Regions from separate parts of the Homo sapiens genome. Here region 2 is linked to region 1. The links come from fine-mapping of genetic effects on gene expression. A gene starts in region 1. The other region holds a variant in brackets. All regions are shown on one strand. Distances are between the middles of the regions. Region 1 holds the start of AIM2 (absent in melanoma 2). Region 2 has its middle 13 kb from the start of TRR-TCT4-1.

What was found. PIP is the estimated chance that this variant, and not a neighbour inherited with it, causes the effect.
Region 2: its variant is fine-mapped to the expression of AIM2 in whole blood (TOPMed, PIP above 0.99).

What each region holds. Positions count from the first base shown.
Region 1 is chr1:159,071,615-159,080,703 of GRCh38, forward strand. AIM2 (absent in melanoma 2) reads right to left here and starts at 5,152. Exons shown (of 6, transcript NM_004833.3): 1 at 5,019-5,152; 2 at 1,624-1,905. The coding sequence starts at 1,885. RefSeq lists an enhancer at 5,594-5,893.
Region 2 is chr1:159,150,604-159,159,692 of GRCh38, forward strand. No RefSeq gene overlaps it. Among named protein-coding and RNA genes, the nearest start is that of TRR-TCT4-1, 13 kb to the left of the region's middle. The variant C/T (reference allele first, on the strand shown) is at 4,274.

The DNA.
Region 1 (9,089 bases):
TTCTCGTGCCTCAGCCTCCCAAGTAGCTGGCATTACAGATGCCCGCCACCATGCCTGGCTAATTTTTGTATTTTTAGTAGAGACAAAGTTTCACTATGTTGGCCAGGCTGATCTCGAACTCCTGAACTCAAGTGATCCACCCGCCTTGGCCTCCCAAAGTGCTGGGATTAAAGGCGTGAGCCACTGCGCCTGGCCCAAAAGCATACTTTGAATCCTACAACTGTTACATTTGGAGACTCTCATTTGGGAGAGTCCTTGGATAATCTACTCCTGAGTTTCCAAGCTAGTCCCAAACTGGATCTTTTTTAGCTAAGCAGAATAACAAAATCCCAGAATCATTAGAATAGCAAAATGGGGAGAAGATTGTAGAAGGGGAAATTTTGTTCTATCCTGGTCAAAGAGAAGAATTAATTCTTGATTTATTACCAAAATAAAAGATATTTCTAAATATCTCAGCCTATGTTTGCCAATATGCCTAGATTCCTGGCTCATCCCAGATAAGAAAAACACAGGGCAATGTTTTGGTTGGTTACTTGGAAGTAACATGTGTAGTTACTGCCATCTAAGGGCCATCTCTAAGAACTACACCTTCTAACTTAAAGCCTGGGAAAACCACCACTCCTTTCTCTTTAGTGCCTTAGAAACTACCTAACAGTTTATATCTGTATAGAATTATGAATGTACATAGTATCACTTATGTGGCTTCATTTAGCCTTCCTATAACTCATGTGTGAGAAGCCATGTCACCCTTGTTGTACACCCACAAATGCTACTAAAAGCTATTATAATTTTTGCTGCTACTGTTGTACTTTGAATCCTAAAACTGTTGCATTTGGAGACTTTCATTTTGGAGAGTCCTTGAGTGATATGCTCCTCTGTTAGCTCCTTTTTGTTCTTCAGACATAAAGCTGGGACATATCAATTGTTCTTAGTAAACAAAATCAGGAATTTAAACTAAATGTAGATAATTCAGATGGAGATGAGTGATTTATTGAATAATGTAAAAAAAATCTTTGTGTTGTGGGTAATTTATACTGTCACCTGTACTGGAGATAGAGAGGAAAGAAAATCCCTGAAGGTGGATTCTCCCTCCCTTCTGAAGAAGGAGGAGATCATCGCCTAAAGAAGGATAGTCTGGGACCACAGAAAGCTGGGGACAAGGAGAGGAATAGACAGACTGTGTGAAGGAAAAAAGGTGCTCAATATCCTGGTTTACAGTTTTCCAATGCAATAATTTATACTTTCAAGACTTCAGTAGAATGTGACAGCATTACATACTGTGTAAATGGAGTTGGGAGAAGTTAACTTTGAAATTCTACGTCCATATTCACTGCAACTGAACTGGAGACAAAGATGGGCAAGGAGAAAAGATGTTAAATGGAAGTGGTAACCCTAAGGCTGGAAGAAGAGATGCAAACAAAGGCTGGAATGGATTTGTGGAATTTGTAACAAACACTTCCTAGAAGCGATTCTCAGTAAAAGGGGGCAAAGAGACAGGTGCACTAAGTTAGCAAACAAATTCCAACAATGTGCACTGGGGGTCATATCCCAGGGATGCCATGAAAGGAAAGGCCCAGGCTTGGCAGAAAAAGGGACGGGGCAGGTGTGGAACTCCCACATTACCTTTCTCCTTCTCCTCCTGAAGACGTTTTGCCAAAAGCATATAATTCAACTTCTGAAAAATACGAATGGTCTTCATCACTGCAGACACCGCCCCAGCATTTTGAATCATCAAGGTAGCTACTTGTATTCTGTTTGCAGTATGTAGTTTGCCTGTGGCAATATTAAACTCGTCTGAAAGAAAGAACTTAAACCTATCCAGTTCCTCATCAGTGATGTTATCCAGGCCTGTTAGCAAGAGTATCTCCTTGTATTTACTCTCCATCTGACAACTTTGGGATCAGCCTATAAGGAATCCAAAACATGTAAGATTACACCACCAAAAGTGATTCTACATTCAAAATAAAGCAAGGTGAGCTATTAATATTTTTTAAAGAAAAATAAAATATTTGCAGTAGTAAAAGAGATTTGAGTAGGACATAGGTAAGAACTTCTTAAGCAAGGTGATCACTACTCCTGGGAAAGACATCTTCAGAAAGTATACAACACCTCTGGAATTCTCAGAAAACAAGATACATTAGCTGGGCGCGGTAGCTCACGCCTGTAATAATCCCAGCACTTTGGAAGGCCAAGGTGGGCGGATCACCTGCGGTCAGGAGTTTGAGACCAGACTGGCCAATATGGCAAAACCCCATCTCTACTAAAAGTACAAAAATTAGCCGAGCATGGTGGTGGGCGCCTGTAATCCCAACTACTCAGGAGGCTGAGGCAGGAGAATTATTTGAACCTGGGAGGTGGAGGTTGCAGTGAGCCAAGATCGCGCCATTGCACTCCAGCCTGGGCAACAGGAGCGAAACTTCATCTCAAAACAACAACAACAACAACAACAAAAAGGAAACAGGATACATTTTCCTGTTATTTTTAAAATAGATTTATCGAGGCATAACTGGCATACAACACGGTGCATACACTGGAAGTATACAATCTGATAAATTTTGGCATATACATATACCTGATGAAGTGCAATTAATCAATCTGTTCTTTCATGGATCATGCTTTCAGTGTCTTATTTAAGAAATCTTTTCCAATCTCAAGATTAGAAGATTTTATGTCTTCCTGTAAGAATTTTACGGTTTGATCATTTCACATTTGGCTGTATGTACTGCTTTGAGTTAATTTGTATATGATATAAGTGATGATTCAAAGTTCATTTATTTTTCATATGAATATGAATTTTCCCAGAATCATATGTTAAAAAGACTGTCATTTTTAATGATTTTTTTTTTTACCTTTGCAAAAATCAGTTGTCCAAATATGAGTGAGTCTATTTCTGGATTCTTTATTCTGTCCATCAACCTATTTTTGTAACTTGTTGCCAAAATCACGTTGTAGTAATATAGTTGTTTATGTATAGTATCCAAAATAATACACAAAACATTATAAATAATAATTCAACAGTTTATAACTATAAGATTAATATACAGAAATGCATTCCTTTATTTTAGTACCACTCCAAGAGAGAAAAAAATTACATAAAAAAAGTAATTTCCAATAGCAACAAAACTACAAAGTACATAAGAACATCGAATACAATATATTTAAGAGTTTTAAAGGGAAACTTATAAAACTTTATTGGGAGATTTAAAGGACCTACTTAAGTGGGTGTATGTCTGATATTTTAAATGGGAAGATTTGATAAAATGAAGACAGCAGTGTTGTCAAATTAATCTATAAACTCCTATCCAAAATCTCAAAGGGTTTTTCATAGAATTTATCAGAATGATCCTAAAACCTAAATGAAAAAAATAAAGACAAAAACCTGCAAAACAAGTTGAATATGTTTATCAGGATGTACTATCCCTACTACTAGGTATCAATACTTACTACAAATGTATAATTATTAAATCAGTATGGCAGTGGCGTAGAAAAAAATGAACTAATAAATAGAGTGTGGAAACAGGACCACATGTAAATTAAAGCTTGGTATATAATCAAAGTGGCATTAAAAATCACAAGGAAAGAATGGCCAACTATAAAAAGTGTTCAGACAAATGACAATACACAGGGAATGATATATTCAGCCTTTCTCTTATATCATACACAAAATATATATCTGGTTGGATTAATTATCTAAATAGAATAGTAATGATGTTGAATAAAACACAGAATTTCTCAATACATTGAAGTAGAAGGAGGTTCCTTAAATAAGGCACAAAAAGGACAAGCCAGAAAAAAAAAATTTGTCAAATGTGATTGCATGCATATTCTCAATTTCTTTGTAGGAAACACACACATCCGTGCACACACACACACTAAACAAAGTGATTATACAAGGCAAAAACTGGGCAGATACCTGCAATACACACACACACACACACACACACACACACACACACACACATATATATATGGCTATACCTGCTATATATATATATATAGAGAGAGAGAGAGAGAGAGAGAGCTAATAGAGGTTTTGCTTTTGGAATACATGGAGAACCATGTATCAATAAGAAAACAACAGTCTATTTGAAAAGTGTGCAAAAGATGTGAATGAGCAATTTGCTCAAATATCCAATAAACATAAAAAAGATGTTTGACATTATTAGCAATTAATGACTTCCAGAGCAGCAACATATAAAGTGGAAGAAATAAGCCAAAGAACAGGAAAAGATGTTTATGAGCTGAAAATAACTGATTGTGAATTTTAGGGAAGCTTGAATACCCCCATCAGTAGAGTCAATGTTAATAAATTCTAAACTATCACTGTTAATGGCCTTATAATGTTTTTTCCTATATGTTGGTAAGCGCTGGAGAAACTCTACTTATACATGTAGAGTTCATGAGTGAAAATTAAAACTATTATCAGGACCATTTTCAAAATAAGGAATACATTAAAAATATTTGCAATGATAAAGCCATCCAAATGCCCCCATCCTACTGATGAAAGCAAGGAAGGACACTACCTTTGTTGAATATCTACTGTGACAATCAGCTTGGATGATTCCTACTTTTCTACTTGTCCATAAGAAGCTAATCTTCCTATAACCCTCTTATATAATAACAATCACATTTTAATCACATTTTATGTGATTGACTCAGTTTTTTCTCTGAAGTTATGTTGCCTTATAAATGAAAAACTTGCATTTTACTTCATAATATCTGTTAACTTAAAAAATGCTTGTATTTGCTATTGGCATAAAAGTCAGCCTTACAAATAGGCTGATAGACAAACCCCAAAGGAAGCCGAAGCTTAAGGAACACCAGCTCAGAGACACCAGAGGACATGGCTAAAGTGAATAAAAGAGAAATGAACCCATCCTTTCAGAGCTGATGTCCATGTTTGCAGGTTCAGGTTCTCAGAGGTGTGCACAGCATGGCTGGCCTTTCCTCAGTTGTCTTTTTCAGCAGAGAAACGGTTAAGTCTCTCGTCTCTAACCCAGCTCCTCTATGGTGCTTACCTCCTGATCCCTGGGGCGATCAGCAAACCGGGTCTGCCACCTTCTTTTCAGAGAGCTTAACTAGCAGAGGACTCAGGAGAGCATGCCCAAATAACCTAGGTGACTTTCAAAGCTACAAAGACTCTGACACTTCTGGACGGCTTCACATGTACCCCTAATAAACACTTCCCTTCACCCCCAGGCCCAGTGTGGGTAGGAGTGACAACTGGAGCTCTAATTGGCTGAGCTGGTTTGGGTTCTCACTAGCAGCCACAGAAGAAAATGTCTATAGAAACTTGTATCTGAGTCATGCCACATAGGAACTACACTGATTGGAAACAGAAAGTGGCCTAGAAACTGTAAAAAATGACCGCAGATGACTTCTTGATACACTTTGTGACTAAGGGGCCTGGTGATGACATTTTTCTGGTATAAACAAGCACACTGATCTCAGAGGGTATCTAAAAGTGTTGCCAGTAGGGCAGTGCAGGTTCTTGTCTTCAAAGCATAAGAGAATCTGAAAATGAGACCCAAGCGAAAGTATAGACATTTTATTGTGGAGCAAAACCAACGACACCCTCAAGGGAGGAGTGCAGGCACTCAAAGATTTGAGTCACAGGCAATGTGGTTCACGTACTATATGAATAAGCACAATGAAGGTATGGAGTACTCTGTAATCAAGGGGAGGGGTTTTCTGGGAAATGGGCGGGCAATTCCCGGAATCGGGGTGCCACCCTTTTCTTGACTAAAGATGGTTAATCCGGAACTGTCATGGCGTCAGGTGCATGATGGGAGTGGGAATTTCCCCATGGAAGTTTTATGATATTAAGGGCATAATGAAGCTAAGGGTCAGCAGTCAGCCAAGTTTTCGACCATCTTGGCTTTAACCAGTTGCGGCCAGTTTCTTCTGTGTTACATTCTCATCTGTGCCTAAGTAGGAAGTTTGCAATCTGTCTTCATTGTCACAGGCTGTTGTAACAGTTCCTATCTACTAGTGGGGCAATCCCTCTGCTAACCTTTTTGACCGCATTTTTATTGCTTGTAGCCACCTGCAAGTAATCATGCCTCATTCCCTCACTGACTGCTTGCCTCAAAAGCATATATACAGTCTTTCTTCCTAACCCAGGCTCCTAACCCTAAATTCAGAGCTTGAGGGCTTGATTCTAGTCAGCAATTTACTTGAGGTTTTCCTTTCTTATTCATTGAATTAACAATTATGCACTGAACATCTAATATGATGTATTAGATTCTGAGAATATAAAAGTTAGTAAGACAAAGTTCCAGATGTTGAGCGGCTCTGCCAAGTCATGAAAACAGACATGTGATTTAATAATCACAATAGGACATGATGATAAGTGTTATAATTAAAGCATGCTCAAGATGCTCAAGGAGCAGAGGAAGAGCACCTAACCATGCCCAGGTAATCAGCCCAGAGCTGCAGGACCTCCTTCACTTTCTACTGCAAGGCTTGTTTCTACACTTTTGCCAGCTTTCAGCTCAAATAGCACCTTATCTGTGGGGCTTCTCTGACCAGCATGTTCTCTACCTCTTCCCCACATTATCTTTTCCCACACGTGTTACTGACCATCATCTGACATACGGTATATGTCATTTGTTTGTTTATTCTCTGCCTCATGCTCCTAAAATGTAAGGCACATGAGGGAAGAGATTTCTGCCCACTGGCTCACTGCATCCACTTCACCTGACACAGTGCCAGGCACAGAGAAGGTGTTCAGAAAATATTCGTTGAATGAGTGAATGCATGAATGAGTGGATCACACAAGGCGAAAGAACACCAAAGAGAACAATATGTAAGAATTAAAAAGATGTGAAGTGTATGAATTTGGTAACCTACTGAGTAAACGAGAGAAAGCTCCCTGTTGAGGAAGAACCCAACAAGCACCAACCCCAGAGAGGCGTACTGATTTGAGGCTTCAGGTCCTGTAAAAGGTGAGTTAAGTGATTAAGCTGGGAAGTGGTCTCAATGAGGAGCAGGTACACTGCTGCACCTGGGGCAGAGAGACAAGTACTCATCGTCCAGCTTTGTTTTACCAAGAAATTTAATCAGAGAGATACCCAACTTGGTGACACAAGACACAGAAGGGAAAGGAGGCAACTGTGCTGAAAAAGGAGGTTTGTTAACAGTCTCACGGAGAAAAGTGGGATCCCCAAGCCCTTTCCTCCCTGACTTCTAGAGTACTGACAGCAAGGTTTATGCCATAAGCAGAAGACTGGAGGCTCCTACTGTAGCAACTGGCCCAAGAAGGGAAAAACTCTCACCGTTACTGACATTTTGAGTTTTCCAATACAAAGACTCAGGCCCTTTCGTGCCAATCCTATAATTAAACTAACTCATAAATAAACCAGGCCAACGCAAAAAGAATTCAAGTCAGTTTTGTGTGTATACATGTATGGACATTTCTTTCTTAAATATGAGTAAACAGACATAAATAACATTCAGAAAAGCCTCCAACTTAAAAAAAAAACAGAAAACAAATCAGAAGAAGGAACTTAAGGACAAAGCAGAGGGTAGAAGAAGAAATATATATGGTCATCAGAGAGATAAGAAAAGACATTGCATCCATGAAACAAAAAGACAGTGCTAATACTTGTAAAAAATGAACAAATTACAGAAGAGATTTTATAAATATATTTTCTAAATGTGATAGCAGAAAAGTTTTAAAGCTAATAGAGTGATAAAGCTGAAGATCTCTTTCTAAAAGTATGCCTAGAAAAGAATAAAATGGAAAAACAGGAGAGAAAAAAAATAAGAAATATACAGGTTTATGCCCCGATGAATAATAACCAGCTAATAAGCATTTAAACAAGAGCGAATGGAGAAAAAAGCAAGTTATCAAATAAATACCGAATTTGATGAATGAGAAAGAACACACACAAAAGCATGTCACTTTGCATTTTTTTTCCAGTTTTTTTCTTTTTAGTAGACTTTATTTTTTAAAGCAGTTTTAGGCTCACAGTAAAATTGAGCTGAAGGTACAGGTTTCCATATACCCTTTTCCCTCACACATGCACAGCCTCCCCATTATCAACATTCCCACCAGGGTGGACTGAGCATGACACATCATTATCACCCAGACTCCAGAGTTGCCACTAGGGTACACTTGGTGTTGTACATTCTGTGGGTTTGGACAAATGTATAATGAGTATCCACCCTCACAGTATCATACAGGGTGGTTTCCCTGCCCTAAAATCCTCTGTGCTCTGTCTAGTCATCTCTCTCCCGACAAATCCTGGCAACCACTGATCTTTTTACTGTCTCTATAGTTTTGCTGTTTCTGGAATTTCATATAGTTGAAGTCATACAGTATATAGCCTTTTCAGATTGTCTTCTTTCACTTGGTAATCTGCATTTAAGATTCCTCCATGGTTTTTCATGGCTTGATGGCTCATTTCTTTTTAGCACTAAAAAATATTCCATTGTCTCCATTTATCTGTTTATCCATTCACCTACTGAAGAACACGTTGGTTGCTTCCAAGTTTTGGCAATTACGAATAAACCTTCTATAAATATCTGTGTGCATGTTTTTATGTGGACTTAATTTTTCAACTTTGGGTAAATATCAAGGAATGCAATTGCTGTGTTGTATAATAAGATATAATAAGAGTATGTTTAGTCTTGTAAGAAACCACTAATTGGTTTTTAATACAATGATTTGGTCAATAAATGTTTATGAGCAAACGAAAGGTATCTAATAAGTACTGCATTGAACAGTTTTAAGAATAAGGAGAAAATCTATGACTCTGAAGACTTTCATATCTTGTCCATAGATTTCTTAAAAAGGTATACTTTAGAAATACATCATATAAAGAATTGTTCAGACTTGTTTAGTGATGCCTCAATTTCAGAACTTTTGTAAAGAAATCACAAGTAAAAGCAAACACCTCAATGCAATTAAATGCTAATTTTAAAAAATGTATCCTTTAAACAGTGGTTTCCAAACTTTAGCATGCATTAGAATTTCCTGGGGGAAGCTTGTGAAAAATACGGATTTTAGGCCTCACCCCCAGCATTTCTGACAGGTTCCTGGGTGATTCTGATGCTGTTGGTCTTGACACAACACTTAGAGAACC
Region 2 (9,089 bases), 79 kb after region 1:
AAGTTTTGGGGCTGAGACGATGGGGTTTTCTAAATATACAATCATGTCATCTGCAAACAGAGATAATTTGACTTCCTCTCTTCCTATTTGAATATGCTTTATTTCTTTCTCTTGCCTGATTTCCCTGGCCAGAATTTCCAATACTATGTTGAATAGGAGTGGTGAGAGAGAGCACCCTTGTCTTGTGCCAGTTTTCAAAGGGAATGCTTGCAGCTTTTGCCCACTCAGTGTGATATTGGCTGTGGGTTTGTCATAAATAGCTCTTATTATTTTGAGATATGTTCCATCAGTACCTAGTTTATTGAGTGTTTGTAGCTTGAAGGGATGTTGAATTTTATCGAAGGCCTTGTCTGCATCTATTCAGATAATCATATGGTTTTTGTCATTGGGTCTGTTTATGTGATGGATTATGTTTATTGATTTGCATATGTTGAATCCATCTCAAGGATGAAGCCGACTTGATCGTGGTGAATAACCTTTTTGAGGTGCTGCTGGATTTGCTTTGCCATTATTTTATTGAGGGGAATCCCCAACATAATCTTTACACAAAGAGTGCAGGGAAGGGAAGAGCAGAATGCTTTGCATTTATTCTTAACTGGTAAACTAGAAAATCAAAAGCATCAAATAACCTCTTATTGGAATCACAGAATGCTCAAAATGGAAAAGGGTTTTAAAATAATCAAGTCTCTTTTATTCATGGATCAGCTGAATTTTTGTCACATATTCTTATTACTTTTATAAATTTAGAGAAAAACTAATTTGAAGATCAAACCGATAATGCTAAGTGGGTGAATGTTTGCTCTTTATACTCTATATTTCTGTAGTCTGTAATTTTTGTCAAGCCTCTCCATCTGTAATTACATAGATTAATAAACTCAGAACCACAGAAATTAAATCATGTATCCAATATCACAAAAATAGACAAACAGTTATGATCCAATTAGAAAACTATAGACTTTCAAGTTGGGATACCCAGGGTTTGAATCTCAGCTGTGTATGATGATGGACACCTAAAGGCACCTAAATGATCTCTGAGATTCAAATTACTTATCTGATTTTAAAAATCCATAGAAGTGGCCGGGCGCAGTAGCTCACACTTGTAATCCCAGCACTTTGGGAGGCCAAGGCGGGCAGATCACTAGGTTAGGAGTTCGAGACCAGCCTGGCCAATACAGTGAAACCCCATCTCTACTAAAAATACAAAAAATTAGCCAGGTGTGGTGGTGGACGCCTGTAATCCCAGCTACTTGGGAGGCTGAGGCAGGAGAATCGCTTGAACCTGGGAGGCAGAGGTTGCAGTGAGCCGAGATCGTGCCACTGCACTCCAGCCCAGGTGACAGTGTGAGATTCCATCTCAAAAAAAAAAAAATTTACAGAAGTAATAATATCTATCTTGTAAAGTCATTATAAGAAATAAGTGTGATAAAGAAAGAGAAAATCTTTAGTAGACTAGCACCGAACGGTCTTTATTTTTAGGAAGAATAGTTAATGCTTTGGTTCTTTCCCCTTTACCCCATCCATTCCTCAACTGACTCCACTCTAGCAACTGTTAAATGTCCTCACTAAAGTCACTAATGGCTTGTTGCTAATTGTCAAATTCAATAGTTTCACTTCACGTTTCTGCAGCATTCCACACTAGTGACCCCATCTTCACCCTTAGAAATGCTGACTCCTCTTGCTTCTGGGGCATGCCACTCTCTTCTCATTCACCTCCTATCCCTCAGTCCCTCCTTCTCAATCTCTTTCACCAGCTCCTCCTCTTCCTTCTTAAATATCAGTGTTCCAAAGAGTGACACTTATCAGATTGCAAGCCAGAAGGTTAGCAGTACTTTTATATTATTAAATAGCAGAGAAAAGAGATGATAGAATAGGATATGACAGAATAGAAAAGAAAATAGCCGAGGGTATCACCCTCTAAAAAAACCATGTATTGTTTCATGAAATCTTTGTATCAGCTACATATGAATGTATATATATAGGTATATGAGTTGTGGTCAAAAACACTGCCATACATTGTACCTTGGTGCTCTTCTTTATATCTTCTTCCTGGGTGATTGTAAACGGCATATGTACCATATGTACTACCAGCTATGAGCTGAAAACCCTTAAATCTCTATCTTAAAATCAGACATATCACGTGAAATCCAGATTGGGATACTCAGCTGCCTTTAGATTGCCATCCCTATGTGACTCACAGTGATCTCAACTGCAAAATGTACAAATAAGAACTTATATTTCCCCATAAACCTGTTCTTCATAATCCACTAGTTTATTCATTTTTTTTTTTTTTGAGACGGAATCTCGCTCTGTCACCCAGGCTGGAGTGCAGTGGTGCAGTCTCAGCCCACTACAACCTCTGCCTCCTGGGCTAAGCAATTCTTCTGCCTCAGCCTCCCTAGTAGCTGGGATTACAGGCACCTGCCACCATGCCCAGCTAATTTTTGTATTTTAGCAGAGACAGGGTTTCACCATGTTGGCTGGGCAGGTCTCGAACTCCTGACCTCAGGTGATCCGCCCGCCTCGGCCTCCAAAAGTGCTGGGATTACAGGGGTGAGCCACAACACCCGGCCTAATCCACTAGTTTAATTAATGGTTACCATCATCCACCTACTCATTTATTAATTTATTTGCTCCATAAATCCATAAATACCTACTGTATAATAAGAAATGTGCTGAGTATTGGAGATATAAAGATAATGATGATATGTCTATTCTGAATAAAAATCACAGTCAAAAACAGAAAAATAAACAAAGTCATGAAACAAAGTTGCCCAACTCTAGAAATCATATGTCCAGCATGCTACAAAAACAAAAATGGGCAAATGAATCCAGTCTGAGGAGTCTAAGAACGTTTTCTAGAGCTGCAGACCTAAGCTGAGGTTCAAAGTAAGAATAGCTGTAAACAGAGCAAAAGAAGAGGTTAGGGAGGGATGGGGACAGAGATTTTGTGTGTGTGTGTGTGTGTGTGTGTGTGTGTGTGTGTGTGTGTGTTGGGGGAGCCAAGGAGATAAGACAGGAAAGCATGAGTAAAAATACAGCAAAAACCATCTTGTCTGTGTAAGAAACTACAAGAAATGAGAGATATTGCTGAAGTTCAAAATCCCAGGCAGGAAGTGACAAGGCATGTGGAAACAAAAATCAGACCATGCAGATCGACATATGTCATGTTAAAGGTCAACTGTAATCCTGTAGGAGATGCAGAGGCAGTGAAGGGTTTTAAGTAAGGGAGAACGATGATTTGATTTGCATTTTAGAAAGATCACTCTGGCTGTAGCAGATAATTTCAAGAGTGCACAGTGAAGAGGCTTTTTCAGTAGTCAAGGTAAGATATAATGGAGATCTGAACCACAGTAATAGAATTGGCTACATAACAGTAAATTGAAGGAAGATTGATTTGATAAAAACAGTTTTGGGGAGACAAAACTGGCCATCCAGTCTCTTAAGCCAGAAATGTGGAGTGAGTCAAGGCTCCTCTCCCTAAAACTTTATCTTCCAAATTTAATCAGCTACTAAGGTCTATCCACTCTGTCTCTTTAATAGCTCTCAAATGTATGCCTCACTTTCCATTCCCACTGCTCTTGGCTTAGTTCAGATAGTTTATCCTCTGTAGCCAGGACTATTTGTTTGTTTATTTATTTATTTAGTTATTTTGTTTTTTTTATTAGAGTTTAAGTTCTAGGGTACATGTGCACAATGTGCAGGTTTGTTACATAGGTATACATGTGCCATGTTGGTTTGCTGCACCCATCAACTCATCATTTACGTTAGGTATTTCTCCTAATGCTATCCCTCCCCCAGCTCCCCACCCTCTGACAGGCACCAGTGTGTGATGTTCCCTGCTCTGTGTCCAAGTGTTCTTATTGTTCAATTCCCACCTATGAGTGAGAACATGCGGTGTTTGGTTTTCTGTCCTTGTGATAGTTTGCTGAGAATGATGATTTCCAGCTTCATTCATGTCCCTGCAAAGGACATGAACTCATCCTTTTTATGGCTGCATAGTATTCCATGGTATATATGTGCCACATTTTCTTAATCCAGTCTATCATCAATGCTTATTTGGGTTGGTTCCAAGTCTTTGCTATTGTGAATAACGCCACAATAAACATACATGTGCATGTGTCTTTATAGTAGCATGATTTATAATCCTTTGGGTATATACCAGTAATGGGATTGCTGGGTCAAATGGTATTTCTAGTTCTAGATCCTCGAGGAATCGCCACACTGTCTTCCACAATGGTTAAACTAATCTACACTCTCACCAACAGGGTAAAAG[C/T]TTTCCTAATTCTCCACATCCTCTCCAGCATCTTTTGTTTCCTGACTTTTTAATGATCGCCATTCTGACTGATGTGAGATGGTATCTCATTGTGGTTTTGATTTGCATTTCTCTGATGACCAGCGATGATGAACATTTTTTCATGTGTCTGTTGGCTGCGTAAATGTCTTCTTTTGAGAAGTGTCTGTTCATATCCTTTGCCCACTTTTTGAGGGGGTTATTTTTTTCTTGTAAATTTGTTTGAGTTCTTTGTAGATTCTGGATATTAGCCCTTTGTCAGATGGGTAGACTGCAAAAATTTTTCTCCCATTCTGTAGGTTGCCTGTTCACTCTGATGATAGTTTCTTTTGCTGTGCAGAAGCTCTTGAGTTTAATTAGATCCCATTTGTCTATTTGGGCTTTTGTTGCCATTGCTTTTGGTGTTTTAGTCATGAAGTCCCTGCCCATACCTATGTCCTGAATGGTATTGCCTAGGTTTTCTTCTAGGGTTTTTATGGTTTTAGGTCTTATGTTTAAGTCTTTTAATCCATCTTGAATTAATTTTTGTAAAAGGTGTAAGGAAGGGATCCAGTTTCAGCTTTCTACACATGGCTAGCCAGTTTTCCCAATACCACTTATTAAATAGGGAATCTTTTCCCCATTTCTTGTTTTTGTCAGGTTTGTCAAAGATCAGATGGTTGTAGATGCGTGGTGTTATTTCTGAGGCCTCTGTTCTGTTTCATTGGTCTATATATCTGATTTGGTACCAGTACCATGCTGTTTTGGTTACTGTATCTTTGTAGTATAGTTTGAAGTCAGGTAGCGTTATGCCTCCAGCTTTGTTCTTTTGGCTTAGGATTGTCTTGGCAATGCGGGCTCTTTTTTGGTTCCATATGAACTTTAGTTTTCTCCAATTCTGTGAAGAAAGTCATTGGTAGCTTGATGGGGATGGCATTGAATCTATAAATTACTTCAGGCAGTATGGCCATTTTCACGATATTGATTCTTCCTATCCATGAGCAAGGAATGTTTTTACATTTGTTTGTGTCCTCTTTTATTTCCTTGAGCAGTGCTTTGCAGTTCTCCTTGAAGAGGTCCTTCACATCCCTTGTAAGTTGGATTCCTAGGTATTTTATTCTCTTTGAAGCAATTGTGAATGGGAGTTCACTCATGTTTTGGCTCTCTGTCTGTTATTGGTGGAGAATAGGAATGCTTATGATTTTTGCACATTGATTTTGTATCCTGAGACTTTGCTGAAGTTGCTTATCAGCTTAAGAGTTTTGGGGCTGAGAAGATGGGGTTTTCTAAGTATACAATCTTGTCATCTGCAAACAGGGACAATTTGACTTCCTCTTTTCCTAATTGAATACCCTTTATTTCCTTCTCCTGCCTGATTGCCCTGGCCAGAACTTCCAATACAATGTTGAATAGGAGTGATGAGAGAGGGCATCCTTGTCTGGTGCCAGTTTTATAAGGGAATGCTTCCAGTTTTTGCCCATTCAGTATGATATTGGCTGTGGGTTTGTCATAAATAGCTCTTATTATTTTGAGATACCTTCCATCAATACCTAGTTTATTGAGAGTTTTTAGCTTGAAGGGGTGTTGAATTTTGTCAAAGGCCTTCTCTGCATCTATTGAGATAATCATGTGGTTTTTGTCGTTGGATCTGTTCATGTGATGGATTACGTTTATTGATTTGTGTATGTTGAACCAGCCTTGCATCCCAGGGATGAAGCTGACTTGATCATGGTGGGTAAGCTTTTTGATGTGCTGCTGGATTTGGATTGCCAGTATTTTATTGAGGATTTTCACATCAATGTTCATCAGGGATATTGGTCTAAAATTCTCTTTTTTTGTTGTGTTTCTGCCAGGCTTTGGTATCAGGATGATGCAGCCAGGACTATTTGATATGTTAATAATCCCTCACTTGTCTACGTGTAACCATCCCTGCTGCCTTTCTGCCAATCAGCTACACCACCAACAGAGCAATTATAATTTTTCTTGAAGGCAAAACCCCTTAAAGTTCTCTCTTGTCTAAAGAAGAGACTAAAAGCCATCTGTGATCTGATTCCCGTCCATTTTTGCAACATCAGTTACTATTATCCCCCAGCCTCCCCTCTCAGCTTACATTTTACAATAAGTACTTAGAGTTCTCAAAATGAAAAAAAAAAGGTTCGTTTTCCATACTAATATGACTTGGTATGCTGCAATGGTTTCTCTTTTTGGAATGCCTTTCTCCTGTCTCCACCCTCACATCTGTCTGGAAGACTGTTCCTCCTCTTTGAAGACTCAGTTTCAATCACCTCATTTTTTATAATATCTTCCCTGACATCCACCACAACCCCAAGCAGACTGGATCACACCCATCTTCACACCATTACTGCACCCTGTGCATATGGCTATCGGAGGACTGAGCACTCTGTAACGTACTCAATTTTGTGAATCTCTGTTCCTACCAGAGAGAGAGAAACTTGAGTTTTTTTACCCTTGATAGTCTGGGCAGTGCCTGGCACATGGTAGTTGTTCAATGTATGTTTACCAAAGAAAAAGAATCAACAATCAAAACCACTAGAACAGGTCTTTGTCCTCCTAGACACATATCATCCTATAATACCACAGTTCTTGATTTTTGTAATGCAAGTATTAGATGGGAACTCTTAAAATGACACTGAGAACTTTAGGCTTCTTCTGCTGGTCTACTTCAAAGTGGTAGAACGTTCAACTTTCTCCAGAGCTCCAGTTTTCATATCCAGTCTATTCAATATTTCCTACTTGATGGGTTGCCCTCAGCTTAAACTCAATGTAATCTAACAAAATTGTTACAAATTGATTATGTCTCCTGCAAATTTAGATGTTAACACTCTAATCCCTCATGTATTTAGATGTGAGTCCTATGAGAGGTGATTTGGTCATGAAGGTGGAACTCTAATAAATGGAATTAGTGTCATTATAAGAAGAGACACAGGGAGACAATCTCTTTTTCCACCATGTGAAGACACATTGAGAAGGTGGCTGTCTGCAAACCACGAAGAGGACACTCAACAGGAATCAAATCCACCAGTACCTTGATCTTGGACTTCCCAGCCTCCAGAACTGTGAGAAACCAAAGTCTGTTGTTTAAGCCACATAGTTTATGGTATTCTGTTTTAGCAGCCTCAAGTAAGACACTAATCCTCCTTCATTCCAAAATACTAAACCCCACAAAAAGCTTCTCCTAATTCCACTATTTCTTTTCATGGTTCAGCATTTTCCAAGTCACTCAAAAGCCAAAACTGAGAGCTGCCTCAGCCTTCTCCCTCTGTCTTGCTTCCCATAACCAACACCAAACGTAGCACCTCTTTTCCATTCCCAATTCCACTGCCCTTGCTCAGGACTCTTTTACTTTGTTCCTGGATTTCTATAATCATCTTTTAACTCATATTCTTAGAATAAGCATTTAATTTAAAAAAAATTAATCATTCAATACATAGGCACACATTATAAAAATATGAAGTATATAATATGGACAATTATAGTCCCCCTTATGACTTAAGTCTCACTCCTGGCCCAGAAAATAATTTTCCAAGTTTAATATGCATCTGAACAATAGAAACACTCAAGTGCCTACTATGTGCCAGGCGCTATTTAAAGCAATTTAAATAGATTAATTTATTTAATTTTCACATCATACCACCCTAGGGGTCATGTAAAATTATCTCTATTTTCCACACAATGAAAAAAAATGCTGAGGCGGTTAAGTATCTTGCCTGAAGTCACACAGCCAGTAAGTAACTATTCATTTACTTAAACACATATTTATATGCATATAAGATTTTACATACACATATGTATATGTTTTATGCTTTTTTCCCATTTTACACAAAAGGGATAGCAGTATGTGTATTTTCTTTGTATTTTCACTGAACAACATACCTTCTGTATCTTTCTATGTTGGTAGATATAAATTTACCTCATTCTTTTTAACTGCAATGTGTTATTACAAAGTATGATATAGCATAATCTATTTATCCAATTCACTATTGATGAATATTTATGTTGTCTTCAATTTTTCACTACTGGAAAAAAATGATGTGATGCATATCTCTGCACATAAATCAGAGCACTCATGTGTGAACAGATCTATAGCATAATTTGTAGAAATAGCACTGCTGGTATTTCTATTTTTAATTCTGATGCATTCTGCCAAAATATCTCCAAAAAGGCTGTGCCAATTTACATCCTCCCTAACAATATATAAAGGTGCCTATTTCCCTAAGCACTTGCCAACACTGAGTATTATCCATCATTTTAATTTTTTAACAATCTGATGGGTTCTTTGATGCTTTTTAACAGTCTAGGATCTCTTTGGTGCTATAACTTGTATTTCTCAAAATCCAAATGCCGTTGATCATCTTTTCAAATGTTTATTAGACAACTGTATTTTTTTTCTGAGAATTCATACTCATATCCTTTGCCCAATTTTCTCTTGGACTGTTTGTCTTTTTTATGTTTATTTGCTGACTATTTTGCATGTTAGCAATTTTGATACTTTGGCATATATATTGCAAATAAAATCTTCCCAGTCTGTGACTTACTTTTACATTTTGTCTATGGGTCTGCAATTATATCAGTTTTAAAAATTATGCAGTAAATCTTATCGGTCCTTTCCTTTATCGACTCTAGGTGTTGTGTCTTGCTTAGGAAGGTCTTTCCCACTCTAAGATTAAGTATATTTTTCGACAGTTTTTGCAAACATTTTTAGTGTTGTTTGGTTTATAAAATTTAGCACAAGTCCACCTGAAATATATTGTCGTATATGGCATAAGGAAAGGCTAAACCTATCCCATACCAACTGACA